2 linked regions of the Homo sapiens genome follow. The protein of the gene in region 1 purifies or fractionates together with the protein of each later gene. This does not show direct contact. Each region holds a gene or a part of one and is shown on either strand. Other genes may lie near its edges. The genes, in order: FAM78A and ASNS.

What was found.
Region 2: the proteins of FAM78A (region 1) and ASNS purify together in Homo sapiens (affinity purification with mass spectrometry, with the first as the bait; one large-scale study listed by BioGRID). This does not show direct contact.

The regions. Positions count from the first base shown.
Region 1 is NC_000009.12:131,259,339-131,263,158, reverse strand, and holds part of FAM78A (protein FAM78A), read left to right. Parts: intron 1-404; exon of another isoform or gene 405-421; coding exon of another isoform or gene 422-468; intron 469-1,808; coding exon 1,809-2,337; 3' UTR 2,338-3,820.
Region 2 is NC_000007.14:97,862,293-97,866,112, reverse strand, and holds part of ASNS (asparagine synthetase [glutamine-hydrolyzing]), read left to right. Parts: intron 1-1,616; coding exon 1,617-1,854; intron 1,855-3,820.

The sequences.
Region 1 (3,820 bases):
CAAGCGATTCTCCTGCCTCAGCCTCCTGAGTAGCTGTGATTACAGGTGCCCACCACCATGCCTGGCTAATCTTTGTACTTTTAGTAGAACAGGGTTTCACCGTATTGCCCAGGCTGGTCTGGAACTCCTGACCTCAGGTGATCCACCTGCCTCGGCCTAACAAAGTGCTGGGATTGCAGGTGTGAGCCACTGCGCCCAGCCCAGAACTCTTTTCATCTGCAAAACTGAAACTTCGTCCCCAAGAAATATCAACTTTCCGTTCCTCTTTCTCCCAGCCCCTGGCAACCTCCATTCTACTTTCTGTCTCTATGAATTTGACAACACTAGGGACTTCACATAAGTAGAATCACACAGTTTGTGTTTTTTTGTGGCTGGCTTATTTCACTCAACATAACGTCCTCAAGGTTGATCTGTGTTGTAGCCTGTGTTGGAACATCCTTCCTTCTTAAGGCTGAAGAACATTCCATTGTACGTATGTAGCACATTTTGTTTATCCATTTATCTGTCGTTGGACACTTGGATCGCTTCTGCCTTTTGGCTATTGTGATTAATTCTAGGAACAGGAATGCATTTTTTTTTAGAGGTAGGGTCTCACTGTGTTGGCCAGCCTCGGCCTCCCAAAGTGCTGGGATTAGAGGTGTGAGCCACTGCGTCCAGTTGGGAGTGCTTTTTTTTTTTTTTTGCAGACAGAGTCTCACTCTGTCACCCATGCTGGAGTGCAGTGGCACAATCTCAGCTCACCGCAAACCCAGCCTCCCAGGTTCAAGCAATTCTTCTGCCTCAGCCTCCTGATTACAGGATTAGAGGCATCTGCTACCGTACCCCGCTAATTTTTTTTTTTTTTTTTTGGAGACAGAGTCTCACTCTGTCGCCCAGGCTGGAGTGCATGGCGTGATCTCGGCTCACTGCAACCTCTGTCTCCTGCCTCAGCCTCCTGAGTAGCTGGGACTACAGGCGCATGTCACCATGCCTGACTAATTTTTTCTATTTTTTTTAGTAGAGACAGGGTTTCACCATATTGGCCAGGGTGTTCTCAAACTCCTGACCTCATGATCCGCCCCCCTTGGCCTCCCAAAGTGAATTTTTGTATTTTTAGTAGAGACGAGGTTTCACCATGTTGGCCAGGCTGGTCTTGAACTCCTAACCTCAAGTGATCAGCCTGCCTCAGCCTCCCAAAGTGCTGGGATTACAGGTGTGAGCCACCACGCCCGGCCAGGAGTGCATTTTTAACAGTAGCTTGTTCCTGGGAGTACCCGCTGTGCACGTAGGTGAGCAGAAGGCGCAGTGGGCGCAGGGTGTCCTGAGCTTCCCTGTTACAGGTGCCTTGGTGGAAATGCGCCGGGGTCCCAGGCCCCACCGCTTGGCCAAATGTCCTTAGGAAAATGTAGCCTCACTCTCCACCCCCAGCCCACCACTTCACTTTCTGTATCTGCCGGGTGGGGTTGCATGGAGAAGATTGTCTGTGAGCCTGTAATGTTAAAGTAAGGGGCCCCTACAGTCTGGGGTGGGCTCCCAGATGCTACTATATCCATGGCCACATGGGAGTGTGGGATCTGTATGTCCCTAGAGCAACTTGGGCCAGGCCGGCCACCTTCTTCTGTCTGAGGGTTATGATTGTAACAGCAGCAGTGATGACAGTGACTCCGAGCTACTGTCTGACCCCCTGCCCCCAGAACGTCAAAGGGGACCGGGTGGTCTGCTGGGTCCGTTCCATCCTCAGGGCCCAGGACAGCCCCTGGCCTGCCAGGGGGACACAGAAAGCCCTCCTTGAGTGACCGAGTGAGTGAACTGGCCTTCCTTGTCCTCAGGTCCAGCTGGGAGCTCCCCGACCTCCAGGAGGGCAAGATCCAAGCCATCAGCGACTCGGATGGGGTGAACTACCCCTGGTACGGCAACACCACAGAGACCTGCACCATCGTGGGCCCCACCAAGAGGGACTCCAAGTTCATCATCAGCATGAATGACAACTTTTACCCCAGCGTCACATGGGCCGTGCCCGTCAGCGAGAGCAACGTGGCCAAGCTCACCAATATCTACCGGGACCAGAGCTTCACCACCTGGCTGGTGGCCACCAACACCTCCACCAACGACATGATCATCCTGCAGACGCTGCACTGGCGCATGCAGCTCAGCATCGAGGTGAACCCCAACCGGCCCCTGGGCCAGCGCGCCCGGCTGCGGGAGCCCATCGCCCAGGACCAGCCCAAAATCCTGAGCAAGAATGAGCCCATCCCGCCCAGCGCCCTGGTCAAGCCCAATGCCAACGATGCCCAGGTCCTCATGTGGCGGCCCAAGTACGGGCAGCCGCTGGTGGTGATCCCGCCCAAGCACCGGTGACAGCCAGGACCACCCGCTAGGTTAGACTCACAAATAATAATACCGCTGAAAACAAAACTCAGACTCACTCTTCAGTCATTCAGCAAGATACAACCATTCTACCCTCTCCAGCGGGCGGATCTCACTGTGCTGATGCCCCCGGGAAGGCCTCCCCGGCTCTCGGCACCTGCTTCCTTTCAGGGAGAGGGGAGATCTAAGCAGGACAGACAGACCCCACGTGCGCCCTCAGGGTGACCTCTGGTCTCCTTGCCTCTCCTTTTTCTCAGTTTCAGTCGCTCACTTGTAACAGATTCCCTGAAACACTGCTTTTTCCGTTTTTTAAAAAAACTCCTCTTTTGGGGGCTCAGGGGCAGGAGGAGGGGGAGCTGATTAGGAGGGAAGCTCCAGCCCCCGATCAAAGAGACAGATCCACACTGCTGCCGATTTGTGGCGCTGGCCGGCCTTCCCCCCAGGTCCCTCCGCCCTCTGTCATGCGGCCTTATGTAGACTTGCTTTGCCAAACTTTTGCCTTAAGCTGAATTGAAAGGAAGAAAACCAATCGGAGAAAGAAAGCAGGATCTCTTTTCTACCGGACTTTTCCTCTTCTGCCAGAGGTGGAGGGAGGGTTGGGGTCGCCCGCGAGAGTCTCTTGAGCCCTTCTTCCCGGTTGTCTTGGGAGAAGGGTGAGGATGGGCATTTAGACCCGAAACCAGCTGCTCACTCTTTCTTTTTGGCAGAAATAAAACCACAGGTAGATTCTGCCTGAACAGCCCCTTCTCTCCCTCCACCCCCAGGTCGTATCCCTGCACCTGCGGAGAGGGGCTGTGAGCTCTGGCGGGGGGTGGCTCCACCAGTCGCCTGGCCTCTTCTCCCCTCTCTTCCCAGCAGCCTTAACTTCCCTTGGGCGGCTCTAGGAGGAGAGAGGCAGGCTCCTGTGAGCCCAGGGAATTTTCACCCTCTCAGTCCTCAGGACCCACCCCCAGTTGAGTCCCTGGCCCTTCCTCCAGGTGTGTGGCTTTTTCCTTCTCCATCCACACTGGTCCCAAATGCCTGGGGGCCGGCCACCTGGACCGCCGACACACAGCCTCAATGTTAGTCTCAAAGGTAAGGAAGGCATTCACGTCCCTTCTTGCAGGGCATTTTAAGACTTGAATCGGGTGGGCCCCGGCCCCTGTGGCTGGCTGGCCCCTGGTGTACTGTAAAAGGGCCAAGACAGGGCTCGTTCTCAGGGGCGCCCCTCCCAGGCCCTCAGGGCAGCGGGACGGTGCAGTCAGGCTCTGGGTGCCACAGTGATGGAGGTGGAAGGCACCCAAGCTCTAGGGAAGTCTTGGGAGGCAGTCGGCCGAGCCCCTGCTTCCTGTCCTCAAATAAGTGAATCCAGGCCAAGGGCTGGGAGGGCTGGGTGGGCTTATCGTCGAGAGGGTTCAGAGCCACTCTGGAGGCTGGGCTGGCACAGTGGAGAGCAACAGGTGAGGACAGACGTCTGGAAGCCCATCCCTGGGAC
Region 2 (3,820 bases), on another chromosome or scaffold:
TGTCATGGCAACCAGGCAACCTATTATCTTAACTTAAATTTAGAGGTTGAGCATCCCTAATCTGAAAATCTGAAATTTGAAATGCTCCAAAATCTGAAACTTTTTGAGCACTGACATGACATTACATGTGCATTTTGATGTCACAGTCAAAATGCAGGTGTAAAACACGCAGTTTATTTGGCGTTCCCTAGGGAAAAAAGACCCTCTCAGCCCGCTTCAGCTGCAGTATAACTTTTCTACACATGCCCGGATTTCCCCATGCAAGCACGCCCACAAAGGGTAATAGAATGGCACATGTTCAAGCTGGATACGCCATTGGCAGGATCCCCACAGATGGGACTTATGTGCATTATCCATTGTGTATTTTTGCTTATTTTCTGCTCTGTGGTGTTAAGATACTGAAAATGTCAAAAAGACCTGTAGATATTTCTATGAGCAGCAGTGATAAGGAAAAGTAGAAACACTTATAACACAGAAAGTCAAGCTGTAGGAGAAACTGGACTGTAGTATAAAGGTATAGATGACATGGTGAAAATGTGTGATAGAGATATTGAAGGACTAGAGCTACCTGCATTCATAACAGAACAAGAGGTCATGTCAGTTTATAAAATCAAAGAGAGCCTTCCAAGACAAAAGCCATTGTTAATGAAGCAGATGACTCTGGAGAAACATTTAAAAGTCATCTGGCCGAATGCCTCTTCAATCTCAGAGGACCCGCTTCCTAGTTGCTCAGCTGCTTCTGATGTTTCTTCTCACCTGAAAAAGGAAAAAAAAATACAGTGTATAGTAACCTTTTAATCAAAACGCAGCATTGTAGGTGGAGTCTGAAAGCCTGCCATTGTTTGTACAGCTGTTTAACAGCTGATGCAGGTATTCTGGTGATTCTACTATGCTACTTATTACTTTCTTACTGTATTAATGGTATGTCATATTTTATAAGCATATGAAAATGATTGCTCATCAGCAGCATAATAAATTCAGAGTCAGGAATGATGGTCAATGATGTCAAACAGCCACAGATTTTCCACATGGTAGCTGAGATAGTGACCCCTTTGCTTTCTGATGGTTCCATGTATGCAAACTTTGTTTCATGCACAAAATTATTTGAAATATTATATAAAATTACCTTTAGGTTTTGTGTATAAGATATATGAAACATAAATGAAGTTCATGTTTAGACTTGGGTCTCATGCCCAAGATATCTCACATATATGCAAATATTCCAAAGTCCAAAACACAAAACACTTCTGGTTCCAAACATTTCAGATAAGGGATACTCAATCTGTATATATATAAATATATGTATGTATTACATATATGGTATGTATATAATATACATTTCCATCCCTCCACAGGTTACTGTTCTGGCACATTCCCATTATGTTCTGTTTATCAGACTGCAACTAAAATTTTCATGGGTTCGGCTTTATGTTGAACAGAATTTGCAGAATATGAGTTGAAGCGAACCATAGTTTAATAATGCTGTGATTCTCCTAAATCACCAAAGTGCATGAAAGGATTATAGAGCTCAGAAATACTGAAGCATCTTTGCAATAAAAAATTATTAGTGAATGTACAAGGAGTCTAACATTTTGGTTTTGCTTTCGCTTCCTAAGATGCAACAGCATTTTGAATTTGAATACCAGACCAAAGTGGATGGTGAGATAATCCTTCATCTTTATGACAAAGGAGGAATTGAGCAAACAATTTGTATGTTGGATGGTGTGTTTGCATTTGTTTTACTGGATACTGCCAATAAGAAAGTGTTCCTGGGTAGAGATACATATGGAGTCAGACCTTTGTTTAAAGCAATGACAGAAGATGGATTTTTGGCTGTATGTTCAGAAGCTAAAGGTAATAATAAATTTTTCTATAGATTTTCATTATTGTCTTGGTTGTACGTTTTCTTTTAAATTATATTTGAAAATCTCTTAGAGAGCAATCCAGAATTTTACAAGTGACTAAGTTATGAGTCTTTACCTTTTTTTAAAAAAACAGAGGAGTTGTACTCTCCTTTTCAGCACTTAAATTCTGTAATCCTTGAAGGATGATTCTTTAGTGCAGTCGTTTATTTTTTGCTGTGCTAATATGCTCTACATCTAGCTTGATCTTAAGTGCAGTTTTAAGTTTTCCTGTGTCATACTATAATCGTAGGGTTGACTCTGCAATTATTGCATTGTGGTACTTTGCGCAGTTATAGCACAGCAAGTGTTAGGATTTCTAAAACAGCTTTATTGATAATTCACATACCATGTAATTCACCCACTTGAAGTATACAGTTCAGTGGTTTTTAGTATATTCACAGATGTTGGTAAACAACACTCCAATCAGTTTTAGGATTGTTTTTCCACCTCAAAAAAAACCAAATCAAATCCTATGCCCTTTACCTTAGTTTTTGCTGGCAGGATCAACTAGGTTTTTGTTTGTTTGTTTGTTTGAAGAGATGGGGTCTTGCTCAGTCGCCCAGCCCAGGCTGGAGTGCGGTGGTTTGATAGCTCAGTGCAGCCTTGAACTCGTGGGCTCAAGCGATTCTCCCACCTCAGCCTCCCTAGTAGCTAGGAGTATAGGCATGCACCACAACACCCTGCCTCCTGTGCCCTTTAGCTTTGAATTCCATCTCTCCATATCCATCAGCTGCACCCCTGCAGTTGTAGCCCCGGCAATCACCAGTCTTTCTGCCTCTGGATTCCCTATTCTGTATGTTTCATATGAACGGGATTATATATCATACCGGCTTTTGTGACTGGATTCTTTCACTTGGTATAGTGCTTTCAAGATTTGTCTATGCCGTAGCATGTATCAGTACTTACTTCTTATGGCCAAATGATATTCCATTACATGGATACACTGCATTTTGTTTATTCGCTTGTCAGTTGATGGACATTTAGGACATTATTTACCCCTTTTGGCTATTATGAATAATGCTGCTATAAACATTGGTGTACAAGTTTTTGTGTGGACATTTCCCTTGGGTGTATATCTAGGAGTAGAATTGCTGGGACACATGATAACTATGTTCAGTTGAAGAACTGCCAGACTAATTTTTGAAATGGCTGCATCATTTTTTATTCACTCCAGCAGTGTATTAAAATTTCTGTTTCTCCACATCTTCACAAACAGTGTGTGACTTTAATTCTAGCCATTCTAGTGTATGTGAAGTGGTATCTCATTGTGATTTTGATTTGTATTTTCCTGTTGACAGTGATGTCCAGCATCTTATCTTATGCTTATTGGCCATTTGTATATCTTCTTTGGAGAAATATTTGTTCAGATCCTTTGCCATTTTTTTTTCCTGTTAGGGATCATTTTATTTTAAAAACATAATAGACTTTATTTTTTTTTTTGAGCAGTTTTAGAAAAAATTGAGAGGAAAGTGCAGAGAGTTCACATATGCTCCCCCTACAGTGCCCCTGCCCAGTTTTCCCCACTCTTAACATCTTGCATTACTGTGCTACATTTATTAGATTTGATGAACTGATACTTATATATTAACTGAAGTTCATAGTTTACATAAGGGTTCACTCTTTGTGTTTTATAGATTTTTGGATTTGACAAATGTTTAATGCCATGTACCCACCATTACAGTATTATGTAGAACAGTTTCATTGCCCTAAAAATCTCCTGTGCTCCACTTATTCTTTCCTCCCGTCCTCTTCCTCCTAACCCCCCAGTCATTACTGATCTTTTTGCTTTCTCTCTCACTTTGCCTTTCCCAGAATGTCGTATAATAGTTGTAATCATATAGTATGTAGCTTTTTCAGACTGGCTTCTTTCACCTAGCAGTATACATTTATAGTTCTTCTGTGTTTTTTCATGGCTT